Linked DNA regions of Homo sapiens. The protein of the gene in region 1 purifies or fractionates together with the protein of each later gene. This does not show direct contact. Each region holds a gene or a part of one and is shown on either strand. Other genes may lie near its edges.

The links.
Region 2: the proteins of SPSB4 (region 1) and LRIG3 purify together in Homo sapiens (co-immunoprecipitation; 2 studies listed by BioGRID and IntAct, with this or other methods). This does not show direct contact.

The regions. Positions count from the first base shown.
Region 1 is NC_000003.12:141,064,255-141,068,627, forward strand, and holds part of SPSB4 (SPRY domain-containing SOCS box protein 4), read left to right. Parts: intron 1-1,697; 5' UTR 1,698-1,850; coding exon 1,851-2,544; intron 2,545-4,373. UniProt on the Homo sapiens protein: Substrate recognition component of a SCF-like ECS (Elongin BC-CUL2/5-SOCS-box protein) E3 ubiquitin-protein ligase complex which mediates the ubiquitination and subsequent proteasomal degradation of target proteins.
Region 2 is NC_000012.12:58,917,296-58,922,386, forward strand, and holds the start of LRIG3 (leucine-rich repeats and immunoglobulin-like domains protein 3 isoform 2 precursor), read right to left. Parts: upstream 3,210-5,091; 5' UTR 2,941-3,209; coding exon 2,705-2,940; intron 2,211-2,704; exon of another isoform or gene 2,188-2,210; coding exon of another isoform or gene 2,132-2,187; intron 1-2,131. UniProt on the Homo sapiens protein: May play a role in craniofacial and inner ear morphogenesis during embryonic development. May act within the otic vesicle epithelium to control formation of the lateral semicircular canal in the inner ear, possibly by restricting the expression of NTN1.

The DNA of each region.
Region 1 (4,373 bases):
TTCCTTATAAGCTGTGTTTCAGGTTATAAATGTGTTCTAGTTTGCTGAAGAAGGAGTTTGCATTTCTTTTTTTCTCCTGGATTTTGGGTGATTTCGGATATGAAAAGGAGTAACTTTATTCTGCTATCTTAAAACTGCCTAGTGTTGCAAATTGTTATGTGTTCTGGTATTCCCTCAGATTGAACATTAGCCAGAGCTCTCGGAATAGGGTCAACATCTGCTGAAGCTGGGATCTGACAATAGAGAGGGAAGAGTATGAGAGTTAAGAATAAAATGGAATGGTGAAAAACCCACAGGATACTTGTCTGTGCTGTGTGGCAGCAGAGTTCTTTTCGTCCCTACCTGGACTTTGGCTAGGGGTGTACCACTGTCTGGGTGGGAGGTTGAGGCTGGGGAGGGCAGGGCATGAAAAACACCCATCCATCTCCTCATCTGGCTCAGGAGAAGTTGTTCTAGGCCCAGCAGCTCTCAGGCCAGGGAGGGGAGGGCACACGCCTCTGCTCTGGACAGGGCTTGGCTCTCCATCTCTCTCCATACCCAGGGCCCGTCCAAGTAGTCCGAGCTCCTTGGGTTCTGTCTGGTTTCCTAGTGATGGTGGCCAATTCCTTCTCCATGAAAACCAGGATCCTGTCTCAGGGAAGGCAGTCTGGGGTCAGTGCTGTTAATGGTATTTACCTGATCGAACAAAGAGCTCACCCATCCAAAGGGAGGGGATCCACATGGGATGCCCAGAGAACAGAGCCAGAGAGGAAAACCTGTCGGCAGAGTTCCAGGACCCTTTATATTATGGTCTCTCAAGTTCCCCCATCACCAGAGGGAGGTGTTTTATCCTCATGTTTTTTACTGGCAAGAAATCTGGAGTATCCAAGAGGCTAGGAGGCTTTCCTGTGGACCCACAGTAGGAGATGGAGAGAGGGATTTGGACGCAGTTCTGTCTGGCTCCAGAGCCTGGACACCGGCTCCCTTATCCTTCCTCCTCACCTCTATTGACCTCCATTCACCTTCCCATGGAGCTCTCACCCCATCTTCCCACGCTGCCTGATGTCCATGTCCCTGGTGACCCTGCTGCACCTTGTTCTGTGTCTTGCCGCTCAAGCCTGGCTACATTTTAGGAGGTTATTTAGGCTCCCCAGGACTCCAGGGTTGGGAACCAATGGGCCACACCCTACAGCCCTGTGTCTTGAGCAGCTGTGTGCCCCCCAGCCTTGGCACAAGGCTTGTCCCCTGGGATCAAAAGCACCTGGGTTCTCATCCAGGCTCTGACCTTGAGCAAGTCACAACTGCTCTGGGCTCACGCCTTATTTCTAAAATCAGACTCCCTATGATTGTTCTAGGTCCGGAACACAGACCCTGAAGCCAGATGACCTTGGTTTGAATCTTGGCTCAGTCACTTATTTGCAGTGGGACTTCGGCTAATCGCTTATCCTCTCTCTGACTTCAGTGTTCTCATCTGTAAATTGTGAATAATAATGTATATCTCTTATAGGGAGATGTTAAGGATTAAACAAACTAATAAACATAAATAATTTAGAACACTGGCATATGGCAGGTGCTAGATTAGTGCCAGATATGAGTGTACGAATTATTACTATTATTGTGCATGCAAAGGGCTCAGCCAAGGCATGGACATAAATGAAGGGATTGGCAACTGGCTGCTGATGCTGCTGCTATAACCCGTGCCCTTTGCTTCCTTCCAGGAGCTTGGGCCCCTGCCGCAGCCCGGTAGAGGCTGTGGAGGTCTACCGTCCGGAAGCCTGGTTCCCAGCCCCGTGGCCCATTCCTGGCTACGGGGAGTGGAGGCTCCCACGAGGTAGCGGTGGCCTGCAGCGGCCTCCTCCCCGCAGTGAAGCATGGGCCAGAAGCTCTCGGGGAGCCTCAAGTCAGTGGAGGTGCGAGAGCCGGCGCTGCGGCCGGCCAAGCGGGAGCTGCGGGGTGCAGAGCCCGGGCGGCCGGCGCGGCTGGACCAGCTGTTGGACATGCCAGCGGCGGGGCTGGCTGTGCAGCTGCGGCACGCGTGGAACCCCGAGGACCGCTCGCTCAACGTCTTCGTCAAGGACGACGACCGGCTCACCTTCCACCGGCACCCCGTGGCCCAGAGCACCGACGGCATCCGCGGCAAGGTGGGCCACGCCCGCGGCCTGCACGCCTGGCAGATCAACTGGCCGGCTCGGCAGCGCGGCACCCACGCTGTAGTTGGTGTGGCCACGGCCCGTGCTCCCCTGCACTCCGTGGGCTACACGGCGCTGGTAGGCAGTGACGCCGAGTCGTGGGGCTGGGACCTGGGCCGCAGCCGCCTCTACCACGACGGCAAGAACCAGCCCGGCGTGGCCTACCCGGCCTTTCTGGGGCCCGACGAGGCCTTTGCGCTGCCCGACTCGCTGCTCGTGGTGCTGGACATGGATGAGGGCACACTCAGCTTCATCGTGGATGGCCAGTACCTGGGCGTGGCCTTCCGAGGTCTCAAGGGCAAGAAGCTGTACCCGGTGGTGAGTGCCGTGTGGGGCCACTGTGAAGTCACCATGCGCTACATCAACGGCCTTGACCGTAAGTTGTGCTGGGCTGGGGGGCAGGGCTTTCAGAGGCTGCCAGGCCCTAGGGAAGCTGGGCAGGCCACACCTCCATCGCCACTTGGGAGGATCCTGCAATGTGGAGGAATGGTCAGGACCTGGGTTTCAATCCTGACTCTCTGCTGGCTTGGTGATTTGGGGCTGTGCCTTAGTTCTCCCATCGGCAAAAGCATCACGATGATAGTAATCTAGCTCACAGTTGTAACGATCAAATAAAGTAATAGTAATCTAGCTCACAGTTGTGAAGATCTAGATAACATGTGTGAAGTGCTCAGAACAGTGACTGGCACCCAACAGGGGCTTTGAGTGTTGATGCCAATTACCAATCTTCCAGTCTGTACAAAGGTTGTACCAAATGACCCAAGCTAGTCACAATGGGAAGACAGTGACAAGTCCCCAGTCCCTGCACTTAAATGCCATGTACTCAAGTTATTGATAAGTAATAAGTACTGATAACCGTCCTTTATTGGCCATCTACTGTATTTGAGAGGCTGAACACCCCAATTCCAGCGCTTATGGGCCAACTATTAAAGGGGACAGCTGCCTCTTATCTCCAGCCGACTGTCATCTCACGGGAATGAAAACCCTGGGTTGTGGAATCTTGTGACTTTTTCCAAGAGAGCCCAGAAATCTAGCTTGTGTGAACTGTTCCAATTTTTAAAGTTGACAGCTGCTGAAAAGTCTATATGGGCAAACAAAATACCCTTGCAGGCTACAAACCAGCCCACAAGCTGCTGGGGTTGACCCCTGACAACTCTATGGCTTCCTCTCATTTAATATACACAACCATCCGGCAAGATAAAAAGTGTAGGAACAAAGACGGTTATTGGTTTTGGGAGGGAGTCACTCAGGGAGACAGGGTGGCCTCTGGACAGAGGCACACGTGGCTGCCTGTCCTGAGTTGAATCCCAGCTGAGGGGCCAGGAGCCAGGCACTTGTGGGCTTGCACACTCCCCAACATCAGCCCACTAGCACCAATCCAGACTTCCTGCCACACCCCAATGAAGCTCTCAGAGGTGGCGCTGAAAGCTAGAATTTCCAGTTTATTCATTCTAAATAAGAGATGTAATTACCAGCCCCTGAGGCAGATCCTCCTTTTAGAAATAAGAAAACTTAAGAGCAGAGCTACAGAGAGCCAGAATCAGGGTTCCCCCCAGTTCTGATGGCCCTGAAGTCCACTCGTTTCCTATGTTCTCCCCTTTAGATGAGGGACTGAGAGTAACACTCCAGAAAAGAGTAACACTTCTCCAGAAAAGAAGTCAAGGACAAGATTTTACTCAAGCAAAATTTACATTTACTGGAGCACAGGAAGGGGACATTTGATGGTTTCCAAGGGTGGCAGGCTAATGGAAAAGTGGCTGCTGGTATGCTCAGCACTCTGGCATAATTGTCGACATTCTTGCTCATATTTTATTTCCGTGGTTGTTGCCTACAATTGCCATTGAATGGCAAAATGTTGTTCCATTTTCTCTGTTTAATGGGTTAAATCTAGGAACTGATGATTATGTCCCTGAGAAGGGCTAATTTAGTCATCACAGTGCCTTGTGGAAAGTGTCTGGAGCCTTCTGAGACATAGTGACCAGGCAAATCCCAGTGGTGAGAAAACCAACAGAAACAACAAACAATCTTTATTTAATGGAATTGGAAAATTTATTTGCTGGAATTAATCACTGGACTAGAAGAGTGGCCTTGGTGTACCAAGGCTCTGGAGTCTGATGTGACTTATTTCCAAGTGCTCAGTGGTTTTGTGTCTTTGGTGAGTCACTCTTACTCCTTAAGACTCACTTTATTCATCTGCAAAATGGG
Region 2 (5,091 bases), on another chromosome or scaffold:
TACTGGAAGTTCTCATTGGCAATTTAGCAACTTTTCCGTCTCTGGGCTAAATAACATTCTAACAAGCATTCCTCTTTAGGTTGAGAACTGTTTAAGCGCAAACTCTTGACATAAACTCTAGCTTGCCTTTAATGGCAGTTGTGAGCAAGGCTTGGCGTAGTTACTGGGTTGTTTTTTTTTAGACAAAGTCTCGCTCACATAGTTACTCTTTAAGAGCCACTTTCATTAAAGCATTAGAGGTTATTTTCTAAAAGGAGTACTGATACAGTATTATTATTTTACAGCTCAAACTATTCGACTTTTCACACATGGGACTCCTATAGTAATAAATCACAACCAAATAAAGTGGAAAAAATACATACACACGTAATTTTTCTTAAACTTGCAAATTCAACAAATGAAACAAAAGATAGACACTGAACTTTTTCTGAAAAGTGCTTTCATAAGCCAGTCCAAAGACAAACTCCTACTATTTTGATTACCCAAGGAAAGGGAAGGTAAGATATGGGGAACAAAAACATGCATTTTTCTATTTATATCTGAACTCGGAAATCATCTCCTTAAGACGATTTTTCTAATTACGAAAAACTTTAGTAGCTTTTTAGACCACCTATTCTAAAATACCAAATAACAGAGAAAGTAAAACTCAATTCCACGTGTTTTTCTGCTCCTTTCAAAAGTGGAAAGAGGAGACCTCTAGAGCTTTAGGTACAAACAAAAGAAATATTTACAATAAAGAATCCAGACCACATGGTTTGGTGACACCTACAAAGATGGTTAAAAGTCACAGAAGTACAGGAATGACAGAGCTGTCCAATAAGTGATCACAGCAGGGTTCCTGACAACAGACTGAGTGCTTATTTATACAAGTGGAACTTATTTTCACATACATTTAAGGAATGTGGGCTAGTATTGAGACAATTTACTGCTGGTGGAAATGTAATTAAAGACTGTGCTAACCAAATAAACTCTAATTTGTTTTTAGTGTGCCACCAAATTATCTGCAAAACAAAATCCTAATTAGGTCAGCTACTTTTAAGACAATGTTTAAATAGGTATCGAACCCCTTTTGGTTCAACTCAACTTCTGATCAAGGGCAACACAGATTTTTTTTCTAAACATCTAAATCCAGGAAAAAAGAAAAAAAGTACTGCACACTAGCATGATCACAATAGACAACTTGACATTGAAAAACTATCGAATACAAGTTAGATGCCGTGAATAATCTAAGCATATCTAAATACACTCCAGGAAGCACTGTATTCATTTTCTCTTTCTCATCCCTCTATTATTCCTAAGTGTTCACCTCCAGTCATTTACATGTTCAGTTCCATATGTTGTCAATAGAGCCATTCACTCATGAATAAGGCAGCATGACCTCCACAAGAGGCAATTTAACAGAATTAGCCACAACTAATTGAAAGTCTCCCTGCTTTCGGTTAAAGACCTTATCTCCTCTTCCAATTGCAATAAAAACTACTAAATAAAACGTCCCAAGAAATTAAATATCAATCCAATACTAATTCTACTTTATTAAACTAAGGCTTATTAAAAACACAAGGAATATACTTTCTGATGGCCAACAATTCTACATTCACAAAAGTTATTTAGATTAGCACAATAATTTTAAAATATAAATTCTTAAACACCTGACCAAACCTCCTACCACATTAGGGCATTGGAATAGTTCACTAGAATTGTTTTAAAAACTTAAAATTTTCATTGCAATTCTGCTAAGTCAAAATATAAGATTACGTATGAAGTGCACTTTTATTTTAAACAGAACAACTACTTTAAAAAATACAAATTTTGATTGTTTACTTTTTACAGCACTCCAATTTTAAAACTGGGACTGAGGAAGAAAAGAGATGACATTTGGAAAAGATCAGCATTTCCAACTAAATTACATTTTCTTCCTTGTTCTTCACGCAGTTGGCAGTGATTTCAGGTTTTCAGACTTCGCAGCTAAAAATCCAAAAACTTGCATAAGAGCTCCCTGCGCTCTCCCCTAAACCGTCTGGGCGTTCTGAGGAGCTACAGAAATCACGCCCTTGATTCTGGATAATCGAGTTCCGCCCTTTCCATAGCTACCGACCAGTCTTTACAATCTGGTTGAGGAGTGGGAACTTACGGTCTGCTAATGTGAAAAAGCAAGCAGAGGGAGAACAACAGAAGTACGTCCACCATAACTTGGAGAATGACCGAATTCTGTTGAGGGGGCTTCCCAAATGAAAAGCCTGACTTCAGTTACTGGGTGGGAACAGGAAAAGGAGTCTGACGCAGCTAGAAACTAAAACTGAACCAGACTCATAACTCAGCGAGAACTGCAAACTCCTGATGTGTGCAGGTTGCCGCTTATCTCCCCTGGGCCTGGCAGGAGCAAGCATTTGAACCCCTTGGCTAGCTTAGGGCGCAGGACTTCATCCCCAATCTCTGGCGTCGTTACTGGCCCCCAACCCTGGTCTACCTGCAGCCAGTTAGGACGCGCCAAGAGCCCACCTGCGCCGCCCGCAAAGCACGTGGGAGGGAAACTGAGGCCCGGACAGTTCTTTTTCCACGCCCACGGAGCGCCGATCGCGGCCTGGGCCAGAAGGAGCTATACGGCAAAAAGGGGACTGCACGCCGAACCCCATTCCCCGCCGGCTCCTGTTTTCTCGAATCTCCAGCGGCCCGGGCCCCCTCCCCCCGCGGGAAGAATACTTACAGCCGAGCGACCCAGGACGGGAGTGGCTCGGGAAGACGCGCTAGCCGCTTACGACTGCAGTCCAGCAGGTCCCCGAGGCAGCGGCAGGTAGTGGGGCATGGGCGCTCGGCGGCTACCCCAGAGGGCTGCCCGAGTTCCCCGCGACCGCCGCTGTCTGACCGGCCAGCGCGCCCCAGCACCGCGCACAGCAGCAGCCCCAACCCCGCGGCGCGCGCACGGAGGCTCGGCGCGCTCATCGCGGTCCAGCGGCCTAGGTCTCTACCCGAAGCTCCCAGCCGGCGCGCGCTCGGGGCCCGGCACAAACTTCCAGCCGAGGGTGCACGCCCGCCCTCGCGGTCGCGTGCGCGCTCCTCCCTCGCGCTGCCCGGTCAATTCCTTCTTTTACTCCCGGCGGCGAAGCCCTTTCATGCCCCCAAACAGCAGGAGGGAAACCGAAAAGAACTGCCAACTGCAACAGAGTTGCAGCTTGAGCAGCGTCGGCTCGCCGAAGCCCCTTCTTGTCTGCAAAAGAAACTTTTTCGCCTCCACCCCGCGGCACTGCGCCAAGTCCCCGCGCGGCGGAGTAGCAAGGCGGGCGGGTAGAGGCCGACGCGCGCCCATTGGCCGACTCGGCTGCGGGCGTCCCCGTGGCCACGTGACAATAACACCGCTCCAGCCGGGGGCCTACGCGCGGGAGAAAGTGGAGCTGAGATTGTAGGAAATTCAGAGTTATATTTTCCAGCCTCTCCAGCCAGAAGTCTCCACTACGTCGTGGGAAACATATATCAAATGGAGTTGAAAGGCAAAAGGAAGTGAGCAAATACTGGGCTAGTTCTCGGAGTTGGAGGTATTTAGGAGAACTTCAGGGAAGTAAAGTTTAATTAGCAGTGTTTTCAGGAAACTTTTCAATTCCAAATTAAAGACACTGATAAATTATCCTACCATCCACAGATGAAAGAGTGGTTTCAATGAAAACAGCTCTTTCAACGTTAATGCTGGTGGGTGTTCCCCCATACATCGGCTTCAAAAGTAAAAACAATAATAAAACGTAAAACTCGTGGTTTTGGAAAGTGTATATTGAATTACAAATAGCCAGCCTTCGTGCACTGGATAAAGCTGGGCGGGGTGGGGGATGGGAGATGACCTTCTAATAGACCTCGATGGCAATCATAGATTCCTGGTAATAGTAATAATAAAAGTAGTCACAGTGACATTTCAAAGTAAAATGAAAACTAAGACCTTGGAGGAAAAAATTAGTATATGCACCTTGGTCCACTTGCGCTTTGAGTAATGACACATGTTGATTGAGAATGCTACCAGGGTAAAAGTACCTCCCGGCCTCCTCAGCTGGGGGAGTGGATGTTTGGGGCTGGATTCAGGCTACAGGACTTCCCAGTGAAGTTTGTTCCTTAACTTACAGGTGATCAGCGCCACAAGATGTTGAAACTAATGGAGACCGCAGAGATCATGTGCTAAGGGGCCTTCCTCCTCTGGGTAAGGAAATAGACCTAGAGAACGTAACTAATGTGTTTGTTGCAAAAAAAATAAAAATAAAAGCAAGACAGAAAACATGAACAAACCAAAAAACAAACCCTGGAAGCTTAAAGTAAGTTTTCACTTCTATACATTGTTTATTGCATGCTGTCTGCCCAAGCTTGTCTGTCCTTGGAGTTGCGTAAACTGCTCATGATTGAGGAGTGGAGATAGCTTGTGGAGTTGAGACTTTAACCCTGACTCTAAGGCCCATTGATTTTTCACTGTAGCAAATCACTCCCACTTACGGGGGAAGGAAAAGACTCACTTTGAAGTTAACACACCCTATTTTAGATATGGTATCCCATTTTCTTATTTCCAGCTACCATTAACAACAACGCTACTACCTTTTTGGATGATGTATAATTATAATTAGAAAATATCTATAATGATGGCACCTTGGTTTTGAATTTATGATTTTGTCTGCTTGGGAGTAGACAAAACACACTACAGTCATAGTAAGGATTTTCCAGCTCAGTATCCCCCATCTATTTTTATTTATTTTTTTTATTTTTTTATTTTTGAGATGGAGACACTCCAGTCTGTCACCCAGGCTGGAGTGGGGTGCAGTGATGCGATGTCGGCTCGCTGCAACCTCTACCCCCTGGGTTCAAGCAATTATCCTGCTTCAGCCTCCCAAGTAGCTGGGATTACAGGTGCCCACCACCACACCCGGCTAATTTTTTTGTATTTTTAGTGGAGACAGGGTTTCACCATGTTGGCCAAGCTGGTTTCTAACTCCTGACCTCAGGCTATCCGCCCGCTTTGGCCTCCCAAAGTGTTGGGATTACAGGCGTGAGCCACCACACCCGGCCCCCCATCTATTTCATACAAGGAAAATTAGGTATAATTCATTGAAGTTTTTAAAAAGAAGA